3 separate regions of the Homo sapiens genome follow, and regions 1 and 3 are each linked to region 2. Evidence: fine-mapped expression QTL. A gene starts in region 2. Each other region holds a variant in brackets. All regions are shown on one strand. Distances are between the middles of the regions.

What was found. PIP is the estimated chance that this variant, and not a neighbour inherited with it, causes the effect.
Region 1: its variant is the best candidate, but not a certain one, in a credible set for the expression of EYA2 in sun-exposed skin (GTEx, PIP 0.58).
Region 3: its variant is the best candidate, but not a certain one, in a credible set for the expression of EYA2 in lung (GTEx, PIP 0.87).

What each region holds. Positions count from the first base shown.
Region 1 is chr20:46,963,863-46,969,086 of GRCh38, forward strand. All of the region lies in intron 1 of EYA2 (EYA transcriptional coactivator and phosphatase 2), which reads left to right. Among named protein-coding and RNA genes, the nearest start is that of EYA2-AS1, 65 kb to the left of the region's middle. The variant C/T (reference allele first, on the strand shown) is at 2,371.
Region 2 is chr20:46,892,693-46,897,916 of GRCh38, forward strand. It overlaps EYA2 (EYA transcriptional coactivator and phosphatase 2), which reads left to right and starts at 2,151. Exons shown (of 16, transcript NM_005244.5): 1 at 2,151-2,295.
Region 3 is chr20:46,945,629-46,950,852 of GRCh38, forward strand. The region is part of intron 1 of EYA2 (EYA transcriptional coactivator and phosphatase 2); the gene reads left to right. Among named protein-coding and RNA genes, the nearest start is that of EYA2-AS1, 46 kb to the left of the region's middle. RefSeq lists an enhancer at 1-257. The variant A/T (reference allele first, on the strand shown) is at 2,710.

The DNA of each region.
Region 1 (5,224 bases), 71 kb after region 2:
ATGGTGCAGGATGTTCAGCATGATGGGAACACGGGCTGCCAGGAGGAGACAGAGAGAGATGAGGCCCACAGGCTTCGGGTCCTTGGTCTTAGAGCTCTTGAGCCATTGTGGCTCAGACTGCAGATCTTAACACATCAGCGGGTTATGAAATCAATTTGGTGAGCCACAGCCAGCATCGCAGGAAGAAAAGTAATAGAATCGAAAATACCAGAGTGTGTTGCACATGAGGTCAGTGTGGTTTTTTGAAACTTTTATTTGAAGTTTTATAAAGGTGTACACTGCACTGCATTGCAAAACAGGTTTCTTACTGTGAGTCTTGGTTGAAGAATTCGAAAGCCACTGTTTTTAGTCCCTGTGAAAGTTTGGAATTTAGCCCAAGGGGCAGTGGGGAGCAATTAAAGAGGTTTTAGTGGGGGGCATGACAAGGTCAGATGTATGTTTAAAAATCTCACTCCAGGAGTGTGGAGAACAGATTTGGAGGAGGTGGGCAGTGGAGGCTGGGAGGCGTCTTGGCAGGCTGTTGGAGGCAGTCACTGGGGTGTGACAAAGAGAACCAAGTAGCACCTGGCACACAGAGGTCCGCAGGTGGCTGTTGAAGGGATGCACGTGTCTGCAACATGGGAGGATCCTGGGAGGTTGAAAGGCAACATTTCAAGCTTTGCCTCCAACCCCTCCCTGGGATGACCACCTACTTGTCACCTGTCCTGTGACGCAGGTATCCCAGGCATGGCAGATAATAGACTCTGATTTTAACACTTCCTGTTTGCCAGACACTCTGCTAAATGCTTTCAAAACTCATGTAATGCCCTCAGAACAACCCCATTGGTAAGTACTGTTAGGATTCCCGTTTCACAGATGAGGAAACTGAGACCAAGAAAGGATGTTACTTGCCCAAGGTCACAGCGATCATCAAGCTGTGTAGCTGGCACTCCAGCCGGGCAGTGCGGCTCTAGAGTCTGTGTGCCCCAGCATCTGCTGCAGTCATGTGGGAGCCAAGCTGCTTGGGTTTGAATTTAGGGGATAATACACTGAGTACTCTCGTGAGGATTTAGTAAGGGACGGTCAGTGAGTAATACATTCAGGGCAGTAAGGGCCTGGAGCTTAGGACGTGCTAGATAAATGAGAGTGAGTTGTGCCACTAGACGCCCAACTTGTAGAGTTGGATTCAAATTCACGTAACTTGTGAACAGACGGTGGAACTGCCAGGGTTCGAATCCGCCTCTGACACTTAACTGCCTGCATCGCAGGAGTGTGGTACCAGCGCTGGCTCTTGTAATTAGGTGCTCTATGTCCAGTACTTAGAACTGAGCCCGACCTTGGTGAACCCTAAGCATGAGCCATTGATCCCACTGCTCAAGGTCATACAGGAATACAAGGGCCAAGGCTGGAGTTCAAACCCACAGCCAGCTTGCTACTGAGCAACTACAGCCCAGTGTAAAAAGGGCTTTAAACAGTCAAGTTAGGTTTTTCTCTGGCTCTTCGAATCCTTAATCCCTTCTCTCCATGTCTGCCCACCAGCAGTGTTCCCAAGTTAGAGCTTCCAGCCCAGGCAGGCCGCCAGAGTCACCAGGCACCCCAGGGCACAGAGACCCATCCACAGCCTTGGGCAAAGGTGGGGGGTTGGAGGGAAGCCTCTGAGAGAGCTGGAAGGTCCCAGCCCCGCAGTGGCCACCAGGTGCCAGGGCCTGGGCCTCACGCCTCATAGCTCCTGAGTCTGACCTAAGCGTGCCTTCTTCCCAGCGTGCAGAACTGTTTGCCTGGGCGTAGGTTGGAGACAGGTGACCCCACCTGGTTGGTTCAGGCCCACGCTTGTTCAGCCTCCTAGACGCTCTGAGTCTTGGCCTCCTGACTCCTCTGGGGTTGGCGCAGCCTTGCTTGCCTTGGCTCCCGTCCGCCGGGCTGTTCCCTGCACGTACGAGTGGCCCTTTAGAATGTGTTTGTCTGGTCAAGGTTGACAAACTTCCTGAGCCCACGTCTGTTGACTTTTGTGGGACCTTCTGGCTACCTGGCTGTCGCGGATGCTTCGCTCAAGCCCTGTCTTCTCTCTTGGGGTGTGGAGTCAGCTAAGAGGGCAGCAGAGCTGGCTGTGTTCACGGAATCCAGTGTCTGGAGAGAAAGCTGGTGCCCATGGCGGCTGGGACTGGCAAGTGAAAACTTGAAATTCCATGAATGTAGCACCTGGTGATTCTTTGGAGAACTTTAAAATGCAGCATGAGTATAAACTGTTCTTAACAACCAGGATATGAACGAGGCAACCTCTTACAGTCTTTTTTTCTTTTTCTTTTTTGGGATGGGATATCCCTCTGTTACTCAGGCTGGAGTGCAGTGGTGGCATCATAGCCTTGAGCTCCTGGGTTCACGTGATCCTGC[C/T]GCCTCCGCATCCCAAAGTGCTGGGATTACAGGGATGAGCCACTGTGCCCAGCATACCGTTCATTCATTTGTTAATTCAGCAAAATACTATTCATCACATATTCTGTGGCAGGTGCTGTTCTAAGCACAGGGATAGAGCAGGAACAATCTAGCTACAGCCTCTGTTCTCATGGAGCATGTTAAGGTCTCCAGCAACACTGTCCGAGAAAAATATAACATGCTTTACCAGTGTGAGCCACATATGTAACTGCAAATTTTCTAGTAGCCTTGTTAAAAAAAATATGTAAAACAGCAGGCCTGGCGCGGTGGCTCACACCTGTAATCCCAGTACTTTGGGAGGCCGAGGTGGGCGGATCACGAGGTCAGGACATCGAGACCGTCCTGGCTAACACGGTGAAACCCTGTCTCTACTCAAAATACAAAAAAAATTAGCCGGGCATGGTGGTGGGTGCCTGTAGTCCCAGCTACTTAGGAGGCTGAGGCAGGAGAATGGTGTCAACCTGGGAGGCGGACCTTGCAGTGAGTCGGTATCATATTGTGCCACTGCACTCCAGCCTGGGCGACAGAGCGAGACTCCATCTCAAAAAAAAAAACTGTGAAACAGTACATTTTATTTAACTCAAGATGTCAAAAAATATTATCATTTCAATACATCATCCATACTTTTAAGATTACTAATGCATTATTTTACTTTTTTTGTATCAAGTCTTTGAGATCTGGTGTGTGTTTGGACACATCTCAATTTGTTTTTTGTTTGTTTGTGTTTGTTTTTGTTTTGGGGACAGAGTCTTACTCTGTCACCCATGCTGGAGTGCAGTGACGAAATCTCAGCTCACTGCAACGTCCACCTCCCAAGGTTCAAGTGATTCTCGTGCCTCAGACACCCAAGTAGCTGGGACTACAGGCACACACCACCACATCCAGCTAATTTTTGTTTTGTTTTGTTTTTAGTTGAGATGGGGTTTCACCATGTTGGTCAGGCTGGTCTCGAACTGCTGACCTCAAGTGATCCGCCCACCTCGGCCTCCCGAAGTGTTGGGATTACAAGCTGGAGCCACTGCACCTGGCCCACATCTCAATTTAAACTAGCCACATTTCAAGTCACCTGTGGCTCATGGCTACTGATTAGAGTCTAAAGAGAGAGATAAGCATTATACAATTAAATACTCAGCTGTTAATTCCAATGGTAGTAAATGTCATGATTGACAAGTTCAGAGTGCAGTGGAAATTAATCCAGTCAGGGAGGATGGTGATAGCAGTAATGGTATCAGGGAAGGCTTCCTGGAAGCAGTGACTTTGTGATTTTTATGCAGAAACCTAAAGTGGGGTGAAGGGGAAGGATGAGCATTCAGGACAGAGGGAACAGCTGTGAGCAGACCCCAAGGTGCCAAGGAGCTTGCTGCTTTTAAGGGATACCAGGTAAAATGCTGGTATCACCAGAGAGTTGAGTAGGAAGGGATGCAACAGGAGAGGTTAGCAGGAGCCAGGCCATGTGAAGCAGCTCACATGGCTCCTGGTGCACAGCAGTGCTGCACTCACAATGACAATTGGCACTTGGAGAGACAGCTGCTGCTTGCAGTTACATCACAGATCGGGATGATTGGCTTGACCTTGTGTATTGGAGGCCTCCAGGACAACCCCTGGTGGTGGCATAGACAGCAGCCATCATCCCTCCTTGCAGGCCAACAGAAGCTCGATCTTATCTGGCTGACCATGGGCTCTGCCCAAGGAGATGAAGGGTGGTTAGACCAAGCCCCTTGTGATTGGTCTGGATGAGATATGGGGGATGGCTGCTGGAGGATGCTGATGGAGATATTCCTCTGAGATAAAATGAAGGCGCCACATGAATGGAGCCTCTTTTCCCACTTTCTTCCTTCCTGCTTAGAGTAGGGCCATGTCCAGTTGTGTTTCTTAGAAATGTGGCTTCTGATGTCCTGTGACCCTAGGGGGAGGACAAGAGACAGGCGAAGGTGCCCATCTAGGGCCCTGATCTTGTTAACCCACCTGAACCGCCATCACCAGACATCTTAGCAATTGTGATCATTCATATCTGCACCTTTTACTGTAACATGCATTGTGTGGGATGAACCCAAGAATGGCAAACATTTACCTGGCACTTACTGTGCTCCAGGTGTTCCTCAAAGCCCTTTGTCTCACGTCATCCTCACAGCAACTCTCTGAGGTTGGCGCCTTTCTTATCCCCATTGTACAGATGAGCAGGGACTCACGCCCAAGGGTTGCGGCTGTATCTTTTAACCGTCACCCTATACTGCCCCCTCCGTGTTTAAACATGTTGGTTTGGAAAGCTCATTCCCCTCCCCTTCACCACCCCCCAGAACATCATTCCTCTAAAACAGGTTTCTCATGCTCAGCACTTTTGACATTTTGGGTTGGATGATTGTTGTGGAGCTGTCCTGTGTGTTACGGGATTTTAGTAGCATTCCTGACTTCTACCCACCGGATGCCAATAGCACCCTCCCCATTGGTGATAACCAAAAATATATCCAGACATTGCCAGGTGTCCTCTGGGCAGCAAAATCCCACCCCGCCGCGCCCCCCACCGACCCCACTAAGAACCTCTACGCTAAAAGATGTTTTCCTGCCAGTCACCTGGGTCGCTCTGTGTCCTTGTTCAGGTTAACGTTTCTGAACCTCTCTTTCCTCTTCTGTAAAATGAGGGGACAGTATTACGTATCTCATGGGTTATTTTAAGGATTAAATCAACCAGTGTATGGAAAGCAGCTAACAGTGCTGAGTGCATAATGAGCACTTGCTCGGTGTGATGATTTGACCTACACGGCTCTTTCTTGTCTGTTTTCAGCTAACAGGAACTGCTAGCTGGGATTTTTTTTAC
Region 2 (5,224 bases):
AGCTGTGTGTACAGTAATAATATTTGTTGAGCAATTGCTAGTGCCAGCTGCAGTCATAGTAGAAAGTGTTTTATGAGCATGAGCTCCATGAATTTTCACAATAATAGTATAAGATGAGTACTGTTATTTTCACTTTAGTGATGAGAAAATCAAGGCCAAGTACATATGTACATTCTGCCTCTAGAAGACAGAAGCAGAGCCATCTCCAAGCCTACTGCGGCAGGCCCAGAGAAGAGAACAACCATGTTTACTGAATACATTTGCTTCTGTCTGAAGTTTGGGGAGTAGAAAGCGGAGTAAGCTATGACCAGAGGTGGGTCTGGGAATGGTGAGGCCTGATACATGTATAATTTGCAGCCCCTATTCAAGAAAAAGAGTACAAAATTATGAGTCCAAGATTAGATAAGAAAATGATTATTTCTTTAAATTAAGAAAAGAAATCACAACAAATTCAAATTTTAAGAAGCTGAAAATTACCACAAACATCACAAAATTCCCAACTCAACTTTCCTCCAAAATGCCAGCAGCCACCTGACACCACCCTACTCAAGGGCAAGTTGGGGGTGGGGAATCGGAGTGGAAAGACAGCGGTGTCTACGGCCTGCAGCCAAATGTCCAAAGCAAAGGACTTTTGTAAACTTTACATCAACAAGCCACCATCTGAACACTTTTCTAAGTCCCCTTAGAAAGGGGTCCAAGCAAGTCAGGGGCCCAAGAACTTAACCTTCATCAGCTCCTGTAAACTTACAACTGGAATTGAAGACTGTTACGGCTCAAGAGCAACGGCTTTGGAGTCAGCCAGGCCTGAATTTCATTCCTGGCTCAGCCACTTTCTGCCTTCTTTGAGCTTGGACCTGCTCATTTGTGAAATGAGTGTGCTGACAGCAGCTACCTTGGGGTCTCTCTTGGGGATTACATGAGATAAGGAAGAGTTGGGCATTGGATGAGCTTAAGGTTGCAAATAAAAATATAGGACCCCCGGTTACATTGGAATTTCGGAGACAAAAGAAATACTTTTTAAATATAAGTACGTACAACCAATCGCATAAGACATATACTGCAACTGATTCCTCGTTTCTCTGAAATTCAAATTCACCTGGGTGCCCTGTCTTTTACTGCACTTAAGAAATGACAGTGGTTGATATTGCTTTTGGATTGAAGCATCCTGGGTGTCCCACGGTGGAATTCATAGACATTAGAGAGTGGGTGACGGGCTAGGAAAGGCTGCATAGACTCCAATTAACACAGTTCATTGCCAGGGAGACTAAAAGGGGGGTGGCTATGAGAGGATGGAGTAAGTGGGGTGCCTTGATTTGGGCATGTAGGTGGAGGGGGCTATACCTCTCACTTTCACTAAACCAGTTAAGCTCTTGAGACCTCAGTTTCCTTAGCTGTAAAATGGGTGAAACATAGGGGAGACCCCTGAACCGTTCTCACCTAAATACCACACCAATGGCACTTCCTCATAATTCAGATGTCACCTCCTCAGAGAGGTCTTCCCTGACTGCTCTAGCTAAAATTACCGCCTCTCCTCCACTCCCCAACAGCAGATACATATATTATTTTTCTCCCTGTAACTCTAACTTTCTGAAACTGTCTTGCTTCTTTACTTGGTTATTTGTTTATGGTTTGCCTCTCCATGTGAATGCAAGTTCCGGGAGGGCAGAAAACTAGTCTGTCTTGTTCTAGCTGAGTCTCTCAGGAGTGGTACCTGGCACAGTAGATGCTCAATATATTTTGAATGAATGAATGGGTGGTTGAGTGAACGAATGTTAGTGTCACTATTGAGGTCCTCTCCGAGCCGTCGTTCCTTTCACAGGGGTCATGCCTGGGTTGCAGGGAGGATGTGCTGCCCCGGGGAGGGAGGAGGTGCGGGGTGTCGGTGGGTGGGGAGGAGGCTGGGCCCTGGCCTCCAGGACCGGCGAGAGTGAGCGCGCTCTGCTCGGCTGCAGGCTCAGGAAGCGGCGCGGCGGCACGTGCTGGGCCAGAGCCCCGCGCCCTGCGTCCAGCCGCCGGGTGTGTGCGCCCGCGTAGCCCAGCGTCGCGCCTCGGCGCCCCCACGCGCCCACGCAGCGGCGCGGGGACCCGGGCGGGGGCAGAGGGAGGGCCCGGCCCAGGGAGGAGAAGGGGCCGGTCCTCCCGGCGCAGGCAGCAGCCGCGGCAGCCCAGGAGGCGGAGGCAGCGGCAACGGCAGAGACAGCAACGTGCCCGCCGCAGTCAGCCCGGCCTCGTCGGACCCGCACCGGCCCGCCCGCCCGCCCGCACCGCGTCGGGGCGCCCTCTCCACTGCGCGCGGTGAGTACCGCCAGCGGCGCCCACCCCAGGCCGCCCGCCGGGATTCGCCGGGCGGGGGGAGTTGTTCACCGGGACCCCCTCGCCCTGCGCCTCTTTCTGGCACTCGCCAAGCGGGGCCTCCGCAGCTGTCGGGACGTTCTGGGGCGCACGGGCCTCCCAGGGCCAGGAAGGCACAAGGGCAGAGGGGACAGCAGCAGAGCCCCCCTCTGGAAAGGCTCTCCCAGGCTCGGGGCCCCAGTTTCCCCATGCGCTTTGGGGCAACGACCCTGAAGTTTGCTCTCCCGCGCGCGGGACAAGTGCATGGCGCGCAGGCGGTGTAGACGCGGCTGGGTCCTTGGCGTTTTGTTCGATTATGGTCCCGGCGGTTCGCGATAAGGGGCGCTCCCCCAGTCCGCAAACTCAAGCCCTCAGGTAGTGTTTATGGGATAACCAAGAAGCAGAGCCAACCGCTGGAATCCCGGCTTGGGGCTGGAACGGCCCGCTGAGACTTTGCCTTCTAGCTATTGATATATTTCTTTTCAAAAGTCCGTTTGCGCTCGGCCCGCTCTGGTTCAGGTCTGGGGCTTTGAACCGGGGCAGGGAATCCTGGCGCCTGCTGCGGGTAGAGTTGAAACTTAGAAAAGTTTACATCCGAAGGGTGTTTAGAAGGCGGCAAGGATTTCGTTGTAATGGGAGAAAGTGGGAAATGGAATTGTTTTTTAGTCATGAAGTCTGGAGGTTAAACGGCCGTGCTGGCCCAGGCTCCTTCAATATATTCCTGCCTGCCTCCCCCCCAGCAATAAATAGTTTATAAGCTCAAGGAATACTAGGAAAGCGTGACTGGTGAACGTACTCCTATCGCAAAAGACTCAGTGCGCTTTTCTCAGCTGTTGAACTGGAAGCGCCTTTTGCAGTGCGAGGTTCCTGCTTCCCCGAAGCCGAGGCTGAGAGTTGACAGCGTGCACCCTGCCGCGGTCTGAATTCTTTTTAAAAAGCAAGACCGATGCTGCGTTTTTATGGATACCCTTTTCTTTTCTTTCCCCTTCCCCGAAATGCTATGTAATCTTCAATTACTTTTTAAAATATAACGTGGAGGTATAAATCACCCCGGTAAGAGGTACCTTTTAATTACGAGGTGCAGTGGAAGAGCTGAACATTGGAATCTAGCTGTTAGCGAGGGCGGAGGGGCAGGAGGATGATTTACAAACATCATGTAAGAATTTGAGCACTGAATTATGTTTGAGTTAGGGAGATCCCTTACAAAGGAAATTATAACCAGTGGACAATTGTATTTCAAACCGAATCTATTAATTTCATGAGCCGTTTCTTGATTGAGTGAAATGTCTGTGACCATAATAGATACAGAACTAGTAAGCACCTTACCAGACTATGACCCATTTGTTAGCAACTAACATACACATGTAACCATCCTGCTTACAAAAAAAAAAAGAGGTACACAAAGAAAGAGTGGGAGGAGAGAACCTCTTTTTCAAAATAATCTTTGTGAAAGAATCTTTCACAATTTTACTCGATAAATAAATGTTCATTTTTTCCACTTGTCTTTCTTCATCACCTTAAGCCCCTTCATCCTTTACATATCTTTGCATTTAGACACTCTCACACTTGGGTAAGTTCTTCTATAATTTATATAACAAATAACAAATGATAGTGGTTTGAATCTTGCTTTTGACTAAGCATTAAATTGTGTTTGTATTAAAAAAAATCTCCTTGCCTTCGTAGCAAACTCTTAACTTTTGCCATTGTGAAAAGACCAATGTGGTTAGATGCAAAAGAGCCTGAACTTTTTTTTACTTTAAAGCAGTTTATATGTCCCCATTCTCTTGTAACTTCAGCTTCACAATATCATTCACTATTTTATCTGAAAGGAATTGGCATTTTTCTTTTCTGTCTTAAAATAGCTCACCTGGTGTTGTGACCATGTGTATGAGAATACTCTATAAACACACAAATCACTTCCCCAATATCAGAAAAACTAAAGGAAATATAAAATAAAATAAAAAGATGTGTATCTCAATACTTTAGGATTTTTTTAAAAAGTTTTCATCACGTAAGTTTTAGAATCTTCTTTTCATGTCTTTTGTTTTGCATTAAACACATCATAAAGAGGTATGATTTGTTGACTTGTTATAGGATTACCATTTGGCAAAAACGCCCAAGACACGCTGTTTCAAATATGTGGTATTACTTCTGCTTTAAATTGCGTGTAAGAGATTGCAAACCTTGTTCCAGATGGATAAATTGATAAAATGCTAGCTGCTGTTGGGAGAATGGAAAAGCCCTCAGCAAAAAGGCTCTGTGGTGTAGCTAAGTACATTTTGAATTAGGGTGAGCAAGCTATGGAGACCCCAGCCGTTTGTGAAAAAATATACACAGTCCAAGCACGTCCACTTTAAGACGTTGTTGGATCCTCCGTGACAAGATGACTCCTTTCCCACAAAGAAGAAACCGTTTCCTTATTTTTTCAGTTACTTTTCCAAAGACAACTTGCATCGGGCGCAAGAGAGCAGAGTTATGCAGAAATCCAACCGTAACCAGCTCAGAGCGAGGACTCATTCTCTCTCCTTCCACCAGATGTTTTTTAGGTGTCCTCAGCTGGAATGCCCAGTTTGAAACTAATTAGGCCAGCAGTAAACTCCTTGTATAATAAAATCGCAGGCCGTAATGGTGAATAAGTGAGGTTCCCAGCCGCTTATGACAGATGCCTTTCTGGGCAGAGAGAGAAGAGAGCCTGTGGCTGTCAGGAGAAAATGAAGGGAGTGGAGGTGCCTTCTTTAGACACATGCCTTTCCTAAGTATCCACGCACATGATCGCAGAGCGGAGGAGTGGAAGTTGCGACTGGGGTAGAGTTTTGTCTTTGCTGGGCAGGCCTCCTTCATACAAAGATGCTTGGGGGAGAATCAATTATAAGTATTAGGCAGTGTCTTCAGG
Region 3 (5,224 bases), 53 kb after region 2:
ATGACTCGACTCTGGTCATCGTTAGGGCGTTTGATGATCTTAGACGGAATCTGCCTTTCACCTCTGTGGCCTGCTGGGCCCTTCTGGGCGTGTTACAGGAAGGGAATGCATCATTGCTCCTATCTGCCTAGTCAGCTTTTGTAACAAGCTCTTGATATGATGATTTTGTGCTTGGGTAAGCTTTTCAGACCTTCTGCGGCTCTTTGCTGCAGAAGGTGGAGGTACTGGGACAATCAAATCAAGCCATCAGCTGTTGACAGTGGGCCTGGCAAGGTCTCACGGTGCAGAAGACACTGAGCTGTCTCACGCTGGCTTGCAGTTTGGTATGTGGGATCCGGTGTGCCTGGGATGAGAGCACACTCGCAACCCAAGAGGGTCTGAAACCCTAAGCACTCTTCGAGGGTCTTGAGAATAAGTACTGACCTCAGGATCTGGGTCCCTTTCCCAGTGGGGGTTAGAGTCTCAGTGGCCTTGGTTGTCCTCCTCCAGTGCCTGTTTATATTTGAACTTCTTCCTCCTCTGGACCTCACCCATTGGATCCCTGCAGGATTGCTGGACCCTCTGCCAAGACTGGCCATCAGCGGGAGGGCTGCTTCCCTCCCTACTTCTAAGCTCAAAGCCCTAGGAGGTCTTGCCCGTGGAGACGAGGTACATGGCTTTGTGTTTTATTGCCATTTATTGTTCTTGTTATTTTAACATTTATGGAGCACGTTTTAGCTGTGAACTCATTTCTTGAGCATCACTGCGGTCAAAATCTCCCCAGGGTGCAGGGCCAAGGGTTACTTTGATTCTTTTTTTGGCTGTTGCCCTATTTACTTTATTAAAAATATCATTGTGCGAGGGGCTCCCTTTGTTCTAAGAACTTTTCTGGACATGACCCTGGGTCCACCCTAAGCCCCTGATTACCATCATTTGAACATGAGCCTGGGTATGAGTAAGGCCATATAGGCCAGCGGTCAGCAAACATTTTCTGTAAAGGACCATGTCATAAATATTTTTGGCTTTGGGGGCCTCTGCTGTAACTACTCAACTCTGCTCTTATCACATAAAAGCCGCCATAGACAGTATATAACTGAATAAAACTTTATATACAAAACCAGACAGCAGCCAGAATTTGGCCCATGGGCCATAGTTTACTGACTGCCCCCTCCCCACCCACCCAACGTAGATGATGGGGCTTTGTTCTACGAACTCCCTTTTAGTTCTTCCATAGATCTAAAGAGTCAGTTCTTCTTACTGCAGTTTTGGCCTGTTTCTACTTCTTTGTTTGATCCCCTAGAGCGTGAGTTGGCAAACTGAGGCCAACAGCTCAAACCTGGCCAGTTGCCTGTTTTGTAAATAAAGTTTTATTGGAAAGCAGCCACACCCATTCATTCTGTGTTATCTATGGCTGCTTTCCCACTACAACAGCAGAGCTGAGAAGTGGCGTCAGAGACCTCTTGGCCCCCAAAGCCTAAAATATTTCCCATCTAGCTCTTCACAGAAAAGCTTGCTGACCTCTACTCTAAAGAGTTGAGGAATGGCTGGCTGAGAAGCAGACTTTTTTTTGCATGTACATGAAGAGCATTACTAACCCTCCCAAACTCATCTTAGAACTTTTCTCCCAGGTTCTCTTGTCTAGTCTTTCAAATATTTTAGATGTTATTCTCTGGAATCTAAGTTTTTTTTTTTTTCCAAAGTTCCAGACCACTGTTTTTAAACAACTTTGGACTGTGATCCTCATAAAGGACATATTTTATATGTCACCCCTGTAATGACATACAATAAACTGCATACACACAGATGTCCCCACCACACACACAAACCACACAAAACACATACAGAAATGAAAGTTTTAAGAAACAATGCTTGCCTTACTATATGTGATAAGCTCTCGTATTTTCTATGAACACCAGTCAGGATCAGCTTGATGATGCTGTGGTAACAAGTAACCCCAAATCTGAGTGCCTTAAATCAACAGACATTTATTTATTGCTCCTGCTCCACGTTTGCCCTGGATCACTGGGGATCCTGAAGGAGCAGAACATCACACACTGATCTCCAAGTGTCTGACAAGAGTGGTACTCACCATTTCTTTGAATATTTCTTTGGTCAAAGCAGCTCACATGACCATAACTTTCAATAGAGTGAAGAAGTGCAGCCCTACTGTGGACCCAGAAGGTGAATCTGAGATATTTGGTCAACAGCATTAAGATAACTACCATATGGCTGGGCATGGTGTCTCCTGCCTATAATCCCAGCACTTTTAGAGGCCAAGGTGGGAGGATCTCTTAAAGCTAGGAGTTCCAGACCAGCTTAGGCAACATAGTGAGACCTCATGTCTACAAAAAGTTTTAAAACTAGCCTTGCATGGTGGTGCATGCCTGTAGTCCCAGCCACTCAGGAGGCTGATGTGGGAGGATCGCTTGAGCCCAGGAGGTCAAGGCCATGGTGAGCTATGATCTGCACTCCAGCCTGGGCAGCAGAGTGAGACCTTGTCTCAAAAAAAAAAAAAAGAAAAAGAAAAAAGAAAACAAAAGAAAAAAATTACTACCATATTAGTCTATCCCAGGAGTTGGCAAACTTTTTCTGGAAAGGGCCAAATGCTAACTATTTTTGGCTTTGCGGGCCATACCATCTCTGTCACAACTATTCAGTGCAGCAGTTGTCACGTAAAAACAGTCAGAGACAACATGTAAACAAATGGGCTTATCTGTGTTCCAGTAAAAC[A/T]TTATTTATAAAAGCAGGCGGTGGGCTGGGTTTGGCTCATAGGCTGTGGGTTGCCAACCCTGGTCTACTCTATTTCTTTTTTGAAAAACACTGGTCACAGCTCACTAAACTGATTTTATTAACCCATCTATGGGTGAGACTCTATAGTTTGAAAACCCCAAGTGACGATAAGCTGCATAAGATGAGGGACTAATATTTCTTATCAGCTGTATCCTCGGTGCCCAGTACAGGGTTAGTGCTGAGTAAACATTGTTGAAAGAAGCCACTGAAAATCCTCTCCAACTGTTTTTCTGGTGATAAATACTCTGTTCAAGATGCATACGTTATTGTGTTTCTCTCGTAAGGTTGCCTGGAAAAAAACAAAATAAAATAAAGCTGCACACATTATTGTTTAATTCGTAAAAGGTTGACCCTACTTTCAAGGTAACTGTCAGTTCCAAACTTAGAGACACAAGTATTATGTTCACTTCTCTAAGAGCACTGTTCTTCATTCAAGCTTGAGATGATCGCTCCATAAATGTAGTGTTGAAATCTATACTTGTGGAAACCCAGGTCATTGTATATCTGTTTTCTTCATATATATTTATTATTTATTGTGTCAGGGAAAATACATGCACTATCTCATTTAATTTTCTCAAAAATTGCAGGAGGTGGGTGCTAATGTTACTCGCATTGTACAGATGAGGAAACTGCAGCTCAGAGGAATATGCCCAGTGTCTTGGAGCTCAAGACTGGTAGAGATGGGATTGGAGCAGAGTCTCTGACTCCAGAATATGGGGTGTTTGATCATTTGGCTATGGTGTCTCTGGGACATGCCACCACATACCAAGACCTACTCAAGTGCAAGGTCTTTAAATGCTATTGGCAGTTGAGGCCATGTTTTAAGTCCTCTTAGAAAGACACTATATTGTGCTTCATAAGATGATACAAAACATACATGAGCCGGTTCCTTTTATGGGAAAATCTGAAGTTAACAGTGAGATTGGGGAGTGGGGAGGGTTTAACACTTTAACAGCTGTCCTGCTAAGTGTGAGAGTAAGTCAGGCCAAACCTAGTCTCACAGTCAAGACTTTCAGGTAAAAGTAATAGAGAACTCAAGTCAAACTGGTTCAGCAAGTAAAGAGAATTTAGGGGATCAAGGAACTGAGAGTCCAGGGTCAGAGCTCAGTTCAGGTATAGCTGGATCAGGGTTGCTGATGCAGTCAGGATTTCAGTTGTTTTCTGACTCTTGACTTGTTTTGTTCTTCTCCACGTTTTGGGTTTAACCTCAGCCTGCACATGGAGCTAGATGGTGGGGTAACTGAGCCACACCCTCTAAGGCACATAGTAGGTGCTCACCAAATATTTATTGAATGGATGGACTGCTCAAGATTGGCTTAAAAGCTTGATACTTTTATGTAGCTGTTAGGTTGGTATGCATTTTAAGATTTGTGTGTATCTGTCTGTGTGTAGCCCAGAGGTTAAGAGTGGAAGCACATTGCTTTGGTTGCAACCCTTGGCTGTGCCACTTACCCACTGTGTGACTTTTGGCAAGGGTCCCAACCCCAGTTCTGCACCTGCAACTGCCCTATGAAGTAGGTAGTATCATTTTGCATCTATGATGCACAAGGATAGCATGACACAAAGAGGCTGAGGTGCTTGCACAAGGTGATTTATGGAGCTGGGTGTGCACCTTGGCATTCTGGTTCCATAGCCTGTGTTTTTCTCCACTGTGCATGCAAAGTGCTCAACACAGTGCCTGGCACAGAGTAAGCTCCCAGTAATCAAAAGAGCCATCAATCCAGGCTCGTTTAAAGGTGGTGGTGGACAGGGCAAGGGTTTCTCCCAGGATAACATGTAGTGAAGCATGGAGTTGAGTGATATAAAAAATAATCACTTTCCTAGAGTCTGGGAGAACTGAATTATTATTTCCCAGCTGCCACTAATCTGCAGGGGGACCTTGCAGCGATGTTCCCCTCTCAGACAGAGACTCAATTTTCACAACCATAAAATAATCTAAGGAGTCTCAAGTACCCTTCTAGCCCTGATATTCTAAGAGTCTGTGACTTGATGATGCCTGTGAGTTTGGAGGTCTCATGGCTGGGCACTGAGTTTCCAAGATTGCACATGGTTTGGGGTGCTGGAGCTGTGGGGAAATCATGAGGAGTCACTCTGCAGCATCTGTTCCCTGCTCCTCCTTCTGGGTGCTCCTCCACCAAGGGGCAGGAAAGCCCAAACTCCCTTGCAGCTAGGTTTCTAGGAGTAATGGAACATTAAGCAGGCACATGCGCTTCCTTGAAATTCAGAAGGCGGAGGTCGTACTCAAATTGCCTCTGCCGTGTTGGTTGTTTCTGTCACTGTGCAGAGTCTGGAGTAGTTTGGCTTGCTGCACAGCTTTAGCAGAGGCCCCAGCGAGCAGGCACTAGCTTTATGTGTGTTGAGAGGCATGGTGTCTTTGTGTGGGTTCCCAAGAAGCTGACCTCAAGATCAGGGCTCCAGTGCCAATAGTTCATTTAAGAGGTGACTCCAAGAAACA